2 linked regions of the Homo sapiens genome follow. The protein of the gene in region 2 interacts with the protein of the main gene of each other region in a pairwise test. Each region holds a gene or a part of one and is shown on either strand. Other genes may lie near its edges. The genes, in order: CPSF2 and SYMPK.

What was found.
Region 1: the proteins of SYMPK (region 2) and CPSF2 interact in binary tests that used the Homo sapiens proteins (3 or more experiments, as listed by UniProt).

The regions. Positions count from the first base shown.
Region 1 is NC_000014.9:92,166,969-92,172,645, reverse strand, and holds the end of CPSF2 (cleavage and polyadenylation specificity factor subunit 2), read right to left. Parts: 3' UTR 501-5,677; downstream 1-500. UniProt on the Homo sapiens protein: Component of the cleavage and polyadenylation specificity factor (CPSF) complex that play a key role in pre-mRNA 3'-end formation, recognizing the AAUAAA signal sequence and interacting with poly(A) polymerase and other factors to bring about cleavage and poly(A) addition.
Region 2 is NC_000019.10:45,814,910-45,818,667, reverse strand, and holds the end of SYMPK (symplekin), read left to right. Parts: intron 1-521; coding exon 522-709; intron 710-1,693; coding exon 1,694-1,870; intron 1,871-2,053; coding exon of another isoform or gene 2,054-2,090; coding exon 2,091-2,186; intron 2,187-2,484; coding exon 2,485-2,817; intron 2,818-2,970; coding exon 2,971-3,108; 3' UTR 3,109-3,258; downstream 3,259-3,758. Other genes in the region: RSPH6A (radial spoke head protein 6 homolog A), read left to right, coding at 3,492-3,758. UniProt on the Homo sapiens protein: Scaffold protein that functions as a component of a multimolecular complex involved in histone mRNA 3'-end processing. Specific component of the tight junction (TJ) plaque, but might not be an exclusively junctional component. May have a house-keeping rule.

The sequences.
Region 1 (5,677 bases), on a different chromosome or scaffold from region 2:
GAGCTTTCCAAGGAATTATTTGTCCAGGGGCATATTATTCCTCCCACTACAAATTATTAAGATTGAATAGCTGACTGTTTAATAAAAGAACACCTCAGCACTCAATACAGCTAACTTGGTCCTGACACTCCTAAAACTTAAGTGGGTGGATGATCCAAATGAACTGACAGGCAGTTTTGTTTTGTTTTTGCAAGGACAGTTATAAAATAATATTAACACATTACTTAAGATCTCTAACTGTGAATGTGTCCTGGCTCAGACAGCATTTCGGATTCAGACGGCTACTCCTGCCGTACCCATTTCTCCTCTCAATATTGGGTTTACGCCTTCTTCCTTTTCATCTTTTCCTTCCTAACTCCTCTCCACAATGATCATTATTTTGTCTGACGCCTGCTTGAACATTATGTATAAGGCTTTACTATAGAATAGAAAGTCATCAGGAAAACATTTTAACAAAATAAGCAAGACAAAAACCCAAAGACTATACACAGTCCAGGACAGACCTTCAGAATCTGTTTATTTCACAATTGCTAGAGCACCATGTGAATTGGAATGCCTGCTTTGGCACTGCCATCTGAGCCAAAAGTGCCTTCTTTAAAATTCCCACTGTGGGGTTCAACTGGCAGGTGCTGTCATGGATCGAGGAAAGGGAGGAAACTTGGTCCTCACAGCAGTGATGTACGGTAGGGGGTGAGGGGCAGAGATGGAGCAAAGGAGCCAGCCACGTGGTCAGGAGGTTGGTTAATCACAGGGAAAATGAACAAATAAGCCAATGTATTGGAGACTCTGGAAGTCCAGTTTTTAAATATAGGGTGGAGAAGATACAATTGTGGAAAGGGAGAAGACTAGAATAAACTCTGTGGAGTAGATGTGAAATAGGTATCAGTGTGTACTTGTTTTTAATATATATATGGATGGATGAGGTAACAAGCATAGACGCATATATTTCCAAATTTGTCCACTGGGAGAACGCACAGTGGCAATGCTAGCACAGGGGCAATGAGCACAGCCTTTAGCATCCGGATCTTGGTTTTAAATACCATTCTCCACTAATATGAACCAGGACTCTTTGGAGAAATGGCTGATGTCAGGAGCGGGGTAGGGAAAATAGAAGACGAGCCTGGAACATCTTGTGGTGCCAGAAAGCAAGGAAGTGCTCAATGAACCATGGGGTATGTCCAAAGGACACAGGAGCTAGCTGGAAAGTGCTCTCGCTAGTCAAATCTTGGACAATGGGGGCATCAAAATAAATCATAACTTACAGATGATAAAACAGGGACCCATGTTCTATACTGATATAAATATTGAATAAATGGGGAAGAAGAGACCCCGTTTCTACAAAAACTTTAAAAATAATCTGGGTGTGGTGATGCATGCCTGTAGTCCCAGCTAACTCCAAAAGCTGAGGGGAAAATGGCATGAGCCCAGGAGTTTGAGGCTGCAGTGGGCTATGATCTCATCACTGCACTGTAGCCTGGGCAACAGAGCAAGACACTGTCTCAAAAGAAAAGAAAAGAAAAGAAAACTACCATTTGGCAATAACTGATCCAGACAAGGATCATCAATGGATGCTAAAAGTAAAGGGTAAAATTTTGAGAAATAGGATATTGAGAGTCTCAAAATAGCTACCCACAAAATACGTAATTCCTCATTAATTAATACCTGTAATAATCATTTCACTATGGATACATATACCAAAACATCATGCTGTACTTTTTAAGTTTATACCAAAAAACAAATACAAGTGGAGAAAATACTAACAGTGGAGAAATCTTGAAAACATCGTAACCAACTGTTAAAAATTAACATCACCAGTAATGGAAAAAATTGACATGATGTGCCTCCTGATACAATGCAGAGAAGAAGACAGCATCACCTCTCTGGTATTCCTGCCAAAAATTCACAACCTGAATCTAATCTTGAGGAAATATCAGACAAACCCAAAGTGCACATCATTCTACAAAGTACCTGGCCTGCATTCTTCAAAAATGTCAAGGTCACAAAAAAGGAAAAACCAAGGAACCGCTCCAGATTGAGGAAGACTAAAGGGAAAATGTAACTAAATGCGTGCTTCATCCTGATTGGACTGTGGACCAAAAAAGGAAAGGGTTATTGTAAGGATATTTTTGGAGTAAATGGCAACATTTGAATGGGGTTCGTGGATCAAATGGTAGAATTTTATCAATGCTGGTTTCCTGATTTTAAGTACTGTGGTTATGTAGGAGTGTCCTTGTTTTTAAAAAGTATACACTTAAGTATTTAGTACTAATGGGACATCACAATTGCAACTTAGTAACAAACAGTTCAAAAAATAATGTGAATACATAGCTAGAGAGTGGTATGGAAAATATGGCAAGATGTTAACAATAGAAGAATCTAGGGGAAGGATATACAGGATCTTTTGAACTATTCTACTTTTCTGTAAGTTTAAAATTATTTCAAAATAGTTAACAAATAAGACAAGTAGTATTTGAGCTGTTAGGAATTTGTCACACTGAGATTTTTGTTGTTTTTGAGACAGGGTCTCACTCTGTCACCCAGGCTGGAGTGCAGTGGCGCGATCATTAGCTCACTGAAGCCTCAATCTCAAGGGATCCTCCTGCCTCAGCCTCCTGAGTAACTGGGACTACAGGCATGAGCCACCACACCTGGCCAATTTTTCTGATTTTTAATAGAGATGAGTTCTCACTATGTTGCCCAGGTTGGTCTCAAACTCCTGAGCTCAAGCAATCCTCCTGCCTTTAGCCTCCCAAGGTGCTGGGATTACAGGTGTGAACCACTGTGCTGGGCCTACACTGATTTTTATACTATTAGAAAAATCTCTACTTAACGGTTTCATTATCTTAGGTAAAAGTATTCAATAGAATAGCTGAAATAAATGTGAAGCTTTTCTTAATAGGCAGTAATTAGATAAAATGAACAACATTCTCAATCCTCCTCATGCCACATAATTCTCTCCCTGCAAGTTTGTCTCAAAAAAAAAAAAAAAAAAAAAATCACATATAAGAAAAACCTTAAGAATTTGAATTTGGTTTTTCCTTATAACTGATAAAGAATTTACACAATCTCTTTAGACATTTATGTTTTGATATTTAAATATGAAATTTCAACTATACCATGACCTATGGGTGAAGTTGGAAATTATAGTAACCTTATAACTTCGTCATCATCTACATAATTTGATACTTTATAAAAGTATAATTCCACTACTTGTATTTTAGTTATAGTCTGATATTAAATAGTTAATGTAAAATTAAAAAATCAACCACGGTAGCAAATGTTTGTCCTGAGAGGGTTTTTAAAGTCCTTTTTCTTTTTTAGGGGGTGTGGGGGGGTCATGTAGTAACAAGTGGCAATGCCACATGAGGCTGAGACCACAATGTGTTTCTAAAATAATTTACAATATTCCTAACAAGCTTATTAAATAGACCTGAAGAGAAATGAAGTTCCAAAAATATTTAAAACAAGGGCAGTGGCAGCACCCTTGGAATAAAGTTTCCCACAGAGTTACGTCTGATAGTTTTGACTGTACAGTATGTGCTTCTTTTTGTTTTTAACATAACAATTGTCAGAGAAAAAAGAAAACACCTATGATACATTGGATATTAAAGTCAACATAACCTCAGAAAATGAGGTAGGAAGGCCTCACGAGTCCTTTATATATTCTCCACTTGAAATTATCATTATCAAAAATTTTAGTAGGATCATGGAATCCTTAACAATTTCACAAAAAAAGCACATACATTTTTGGTTCTCTTTGACTATATGGAGAGAGAAAGAGAGATGGATTCATTCATTCAAGACTCAGTGCAGTCTCAACCTCCCCAGGCTCAAGTGATCCTCCCACCTCAGCCTCCCAAATAGCTGGGACTACAGCCACCATGCCCAGCTAATTTTTCTATTTTTTGTAGAGACAGGGTTTTACCATGTTCCCCAGGCTGGTCTTGAACTCCTGAGTTCAAGCAGTATGCCTGCCTTGGCCTCCCAAAGTGCTGGGATCACAGGTGTGAGCCACGGCGTCCAGCCACGAGGAGAGATTTCAAACTCTCCAAACTTCTATTTTGCTCTTTGGAATCCCATTTTGACTTCAAGAGCTAAAATGAAATGGAGTGAATAATGAACGAAAAGCACCAAAAAATAGAGCTGTGTGTGCATGTGCGTATAGTGGTGGGGAGGAAAAGGGAAAAGCCAAGAAGATACCCTCACTTCCAGCAAAGCCCTGGGTTTTTAAATTTTGGTAATTTTTGGTATTTTCCCATAAACACAAAGTGCTTCAAGTGAGACAAAAACCAAAGAGGAGGTAAAAAAATAAACATTTGCTTGGAACTTGCCCACGTGGGAAGATTTGAATGTTCCTTCTCTAGCCGCTCCCCCTGCCCTTTTTTTTTTTTTTTTTTGGAGACAGAGTTGCGCTCTGTCGCCCAAGATGGAGTACAGTGGCGTGATCTTGGCTCACTGCAACTTCCGCATCCCGGGTTCAAGCGATTCTACTGCCTCAGCCTCCCAAGTAGCTGGGATTATAGGCACCCGTCACCACACCTGACTAATTTTTCGTAATTTTAGTAGAGATGAGGTTTCACCATGTTGGCCAGGCTGGTCTGGAACTCCTGACCTCAGATGATCCACCCGCCTCGGCCTCCCAAAGTGCTGGGATTACAGGTGTGAGCCACCACGCCTGACCTTAGTTCCCATTATTGAATCCAAATTCATTCTACATTCATTCTATGGTTACCAGAAAAAAAAAAAAAAAAAACCTGCAATTAACCTCTCAATCACTGAATTACTACCCACTGTTTATACCCTTTAAGTGATAATCAGTCCATCAATATTTTAAAGGACAATAATCTTCTGATAAAACTCTAGACTCTTACATTAATCAAAGAAAAGTACAGAAGAAGATAAGATTTACTCTTTCTCCCCCGACCTTTACTGGACACAGTATAGAATAGAAATCAATCTATTTCTCAGCATGCCACTGTCCTAAATAACAGCTGCCATTCTTAGAGAAGATAAACTGAACATATCACTCCTAAGCAAAGTGAATGTACACTAGGGAACCAAAGCAATAATGCAGTGTAGAAGCAACAATGGATTCTCTAAGACTTGGTTCCAATCCCAACTCTGCCTTTAAACAGCTGTGTGGATCTCAAGCAAATCCCTTTCCTTGTACAGGGTCATTCATTCAATACTAAAATAAGTGGGTTGAATTAGATGAGCTCTCTAGTCCCTTTCAGCACTAACATTAAAAGACTCTAAGTTATAAATGTCAACTGCTTTTTACCTCCTATTAAAAATGAGTGGGCTTTTTTGCAGAAATTGGTAAGCTGAATCTTAGGCTGAGTATGGTGGCTCACGACTGTAATCCCAGCACTTTGGGAGGCTGAGGCAGCCGGGTTACTTGATGTCAGGAGTTCGAGACCAGCCTGGTCAGCATGATGAAACCTCATCTCTATTAAAAATACAAAAATTAGCCTGGCATGGTGGCACGCGCCTGTAGTCCTAACTACTCTGGAGGCTGAGGCAGGAGAATCTCTCGAACCCAGGAGGCGGAGGTTGCAGTGAGCTGAGATTGAGCCATAGCACTCCAGCCTGGGTGACAAAGCAAGATGCTATCTCAAAAAAAAAAAAAAAGAAAAAAAAGAAATCGATAAGCAGAATCTAAACTCACATGAAAATG
Region 2 (3,758 bases):
TGTGCCCATATGCCCAACACAGCCCTTAGCCTGGCACCCCCCATCTTCCCAGCACCAGCGCAAGCCCTGTATCCTTGTCAGGACTGGGTGGGCAGTCCCTTGGCCCTCTGACAAGCTGGTCTGTGGACTGCTGTTCTCTCTGGAGGGGCTGGTAGAAACCAATAGCTGCCTTCCCTCCCTAGCAGGGGTGGGGGGCCCTGCCACTCCCCCAGGGCTTGGCAACACATCTTTCCCAAGGTCGTCCTTAAAGTGAGGGGCCACGGGTTCCCTGTTCCACCCATTTTGGGGCTTCCTGGAGTTGGATGTCTTCTCCCTTGAACCAAGCCTGCAGGTTTTCCAAGGGCGGGGCTTGCAGTGTGCCTTCTGCTGGGTCGGGGGAGTCTCCTCTCTCCCGCAGGGGCTTTAGAAGTCAGGGCTTTAGAAGTCTTCCCCTCACATGGGCAGACAGCAGAGGCCGGGACTCCCACCTCCCAGGGGGCAGCTGGGCAGAGAGGACAGGCCCACTCTCCGCCTCCTCGCAGCCACCAACCTGTGCTTTGCGGAGCGGAACGTGTACACGTCAGAGGTGCTGGCCGTGGTGATGCAGCAGCTGATGGAGCAGAGCCCCCTGCCCATGCTGCTCATGAGGACCGTCATCCAGTCCCTGACCATGTACCCCCGCCTGGGGGGCTTCGTCATGAACATCCTGTCCCGCCTCATCATGAAGCAGGTAACCCATCCCCGGCCACCCCGCCTCCAGGCTGCAGACAGCAGCTTCTAGCCTGCTTGCCCTCCCCTTCCCCCGTCTGACCCCGGAGGGAGCCCGGTGGAGGACAGCAGGCTCTGCTCTGCCTCCTGCCAAGAAAATAGCAGTGCTCCAGGGTGTATGACTGGGCCAGCTCCCAGGTGATGAGGGAGGGCAGCTGGGTGGTAGGAGCTGTGGTAACCCTCAAGGGGTGTGCACCCGGGAGAGGCATGGCTGCTCCTCACCCTCCACCGCTGTGTGCCCGGCCAGGATGCATCCCAGAGCTGAAAAATGGCCCAGTTTTTTAAGAGGTGCTAGAAATTTGGGCTTTAGAAATACCACGATAAGGCCAGGTGTGATGGTTCACACCTGTAATGCCAACTCTTTGGGAGGCCGAGACAGGAGGACTGCTTGAGCCCAGGAGTTTGGGGCTGCAGTGAGGAAGAAACGCGCCACTCACTGCACTCTAGCCTGGGCGGCAGAGTAAGACCATCTCTCAAAAAAAAAAAAAAAAAAAAAAAAAAAAGAGAACAAAAAAACCAAACCCCGCAGGACTAATGTCGCCCCCTGGAGGCTGCGGTGAGAATGTACATGTGACCCAGGACAGGTCCCGGCACCGGCACGGACCTCCGCTGTTTAGCAGGGGTAATTTCGCCCCCTGGAGGCTGCCGTGAGAATGTCATGAGAGGTGCTCCCGCAGCACTTAGCCTGGGCCTGGCCCAGGGGGAGCTCTGGTAAAAGGCGGCTGAGTTTTCTTCCACCCCCTTCCCAAGTTGCCCTCGTGGTCCAGCCGCCTGGATCGGGAAGACAAAGGCCTCTGGAGGGAGGTCGGGGCTGCTTGTTGCCCATCCAGAGGAATCTTGGATGGTGGGATTTGGGCATGGTCTTGGCAAGGTCTTTCTCCCAGTGTCAAGGCTCGGGGGGATGCCTGTGTGCCTCTCCCGACGGCTCCCTCCCTCCCTGGTTCAGGTGTGGAAGTACCCCAAGGTGTGGGAGGGCTTCATCAAGTGCTGCCAGCGCACAAAGCCCCAGAGCTTCCAGGTCATCCTGCAGCTGCCGCCCCAGCAGCTGGGAGCCGTCTTTGACAAGTGCCCAGAGCTCCGGGAGCCCCTGCTGGCCCATGTCCGCTCCTTCACCCCCCACCAGGTACCCCTTCCCCCCACCAGGTACCCTTTCCCCCCACCCAGGGTGTGCGGTGGGCGGCCCCCTGGGTCCCTCTGGTTGGTGGGGACTGGATGGAGGCGGACACAAGAAGGCCCTGCACTGCTGGGAGTTCTGGAGGGTTAGGGCCCCCGGACCTGAGGTGTGCAAATGGGGTCTCTGTGCCAGAGCTGCCCCCAGCGCCCCCTTCCTGCTCTCCACCCAGCAAGCTCACATCCCTAACTCCATCATGACCATCTTGGAGGCCAGCGGCAAGCAGGAGCCAGAGGCCAAGGAGGCGCCTGCGGGGCCCTTGGAGGAGGTGAGGGCCCTGCAGCCCACCCATCTGGATCCCCAGACTCCCACCCCCTACCCCAAGCCAGCAAGGCTCACCATGGCCTCCTCCTGACCCCGAGAGACTCAGGCCACCCCTGCCTCTGGGCCACCCGTCTCCCAGGGGATGCTCCTGCTGGGAGTTGGGGGTCTGGGGGACAACTGCCCCTTCCTCCCCATGCTCTTGGTGAAGAACTCAAAGACCACCTCAGGGTGGTTCCTTCTCTTTCCGGCCGTCCTCTGAGCCACCCACCTCTGAGCTTCTGTGTGGCCCTCCCTATCCCCAGGATGATCTGGAGCCCCTGACCTTGGCCCCGGCCCCAGCACCCCGGCCCCCTCAGGACCTCATCGGCCTGCGACTGGCCCAGGAGAAGGCCTTAAAGCGGCAGCTGGAGGAGGAACAGAAGCTGAAGCCGGGAGGAGTGGGAGCCCCCTCCTCTTCCTCCCCCTCTCCCTCTCCGTCGGCCCGGCCAGGCCCGCCCCCGTCTGAGGAAGCCATGGATTTCCGGGAGGAGGGGCCTGAGTGCGAGACCCCGGGCATCTTCATCAGCATGGATGACGACTCGGGGCTGACCGAGGCCGCGCTGTTGGACTCTAGTCTCGAGGGCCCCCTACCCAAGGTAGGGAGAGCAGCCTCCGCTGCGAAGGAAGAAGCCGGATCTGGGCCGGGGTGAAGGTGGGGGAGGAGGGGCCATCAGGGGGCAGGGCCTGAAGGGGAGCGTGGAGGTGACCGCGCCCTCCACCCGGCTGCCCTTTCCTTCCCCGGTCACCAGGAGACGGCAGCGGGCGGGCTGACCTTGAAGGAGGAGCGGAGCCCCCAGACCCTCGCACCTGTTGGAGAAGATGCTATGAAGACTCCCAGCCCGGCTGCCGAGGACGCCAGGGAACCCGAGGCCAAGGGGAACAGCTGACGGGGCTCGAGGGGGAAAGGGGGTGGGACAGGGACTCGGGGCTGGGGGACGGGGCGGGGCTTGACCTGCGGGTGCTTTGCCTTAAAAAGAAATAAAAGATGTGAACTTGGGCAAGTTACTGAAAAGAAAAAAAAAAAGGGATGGCGGGCCTGGGGCGCGGGTGCCGTCTCGAGTCTGGCGCGACGTCCACCGTGGGGCTGCGCGGGATCGGGAGTGCGCGCCCAGAGCCTGCGCGGAACCCACCCTGGCCCGCTCCCCGCGCCCTCCACGGGTAACGGCCCCCTCTCTCGGTGCTCAGAAACCGGCGGTGTCGACAGGTGGCTCTCGCTTGGCCTCCTTGTCTGCAAGCCTTTCTCCTAGAGATCTGTGCCTCCTGGCGAACCATGGGAGACCTGCCGCCCTACCCTGAGCGCCCTGCCCAGCAGCCTCCGGGCCGGAGGACTTCTCAGGCCTCCCAGAGGCGGCACAGTCGGGACCAAGCTCAGGCCCTGGCAGCGGACCCCGAGGAGAGGCAGCAGATACCTCCAGACGCCCAGCGAAACGCCCCTGGTTGGTCACAGAGGGGCAGCCTGTCCCAACAGGAGAACTTGCTGATGCCCCAGGTCTTCCAGGCTGAGGAAGCCCGGCTGGGTGGCATGGAGTACCCATCT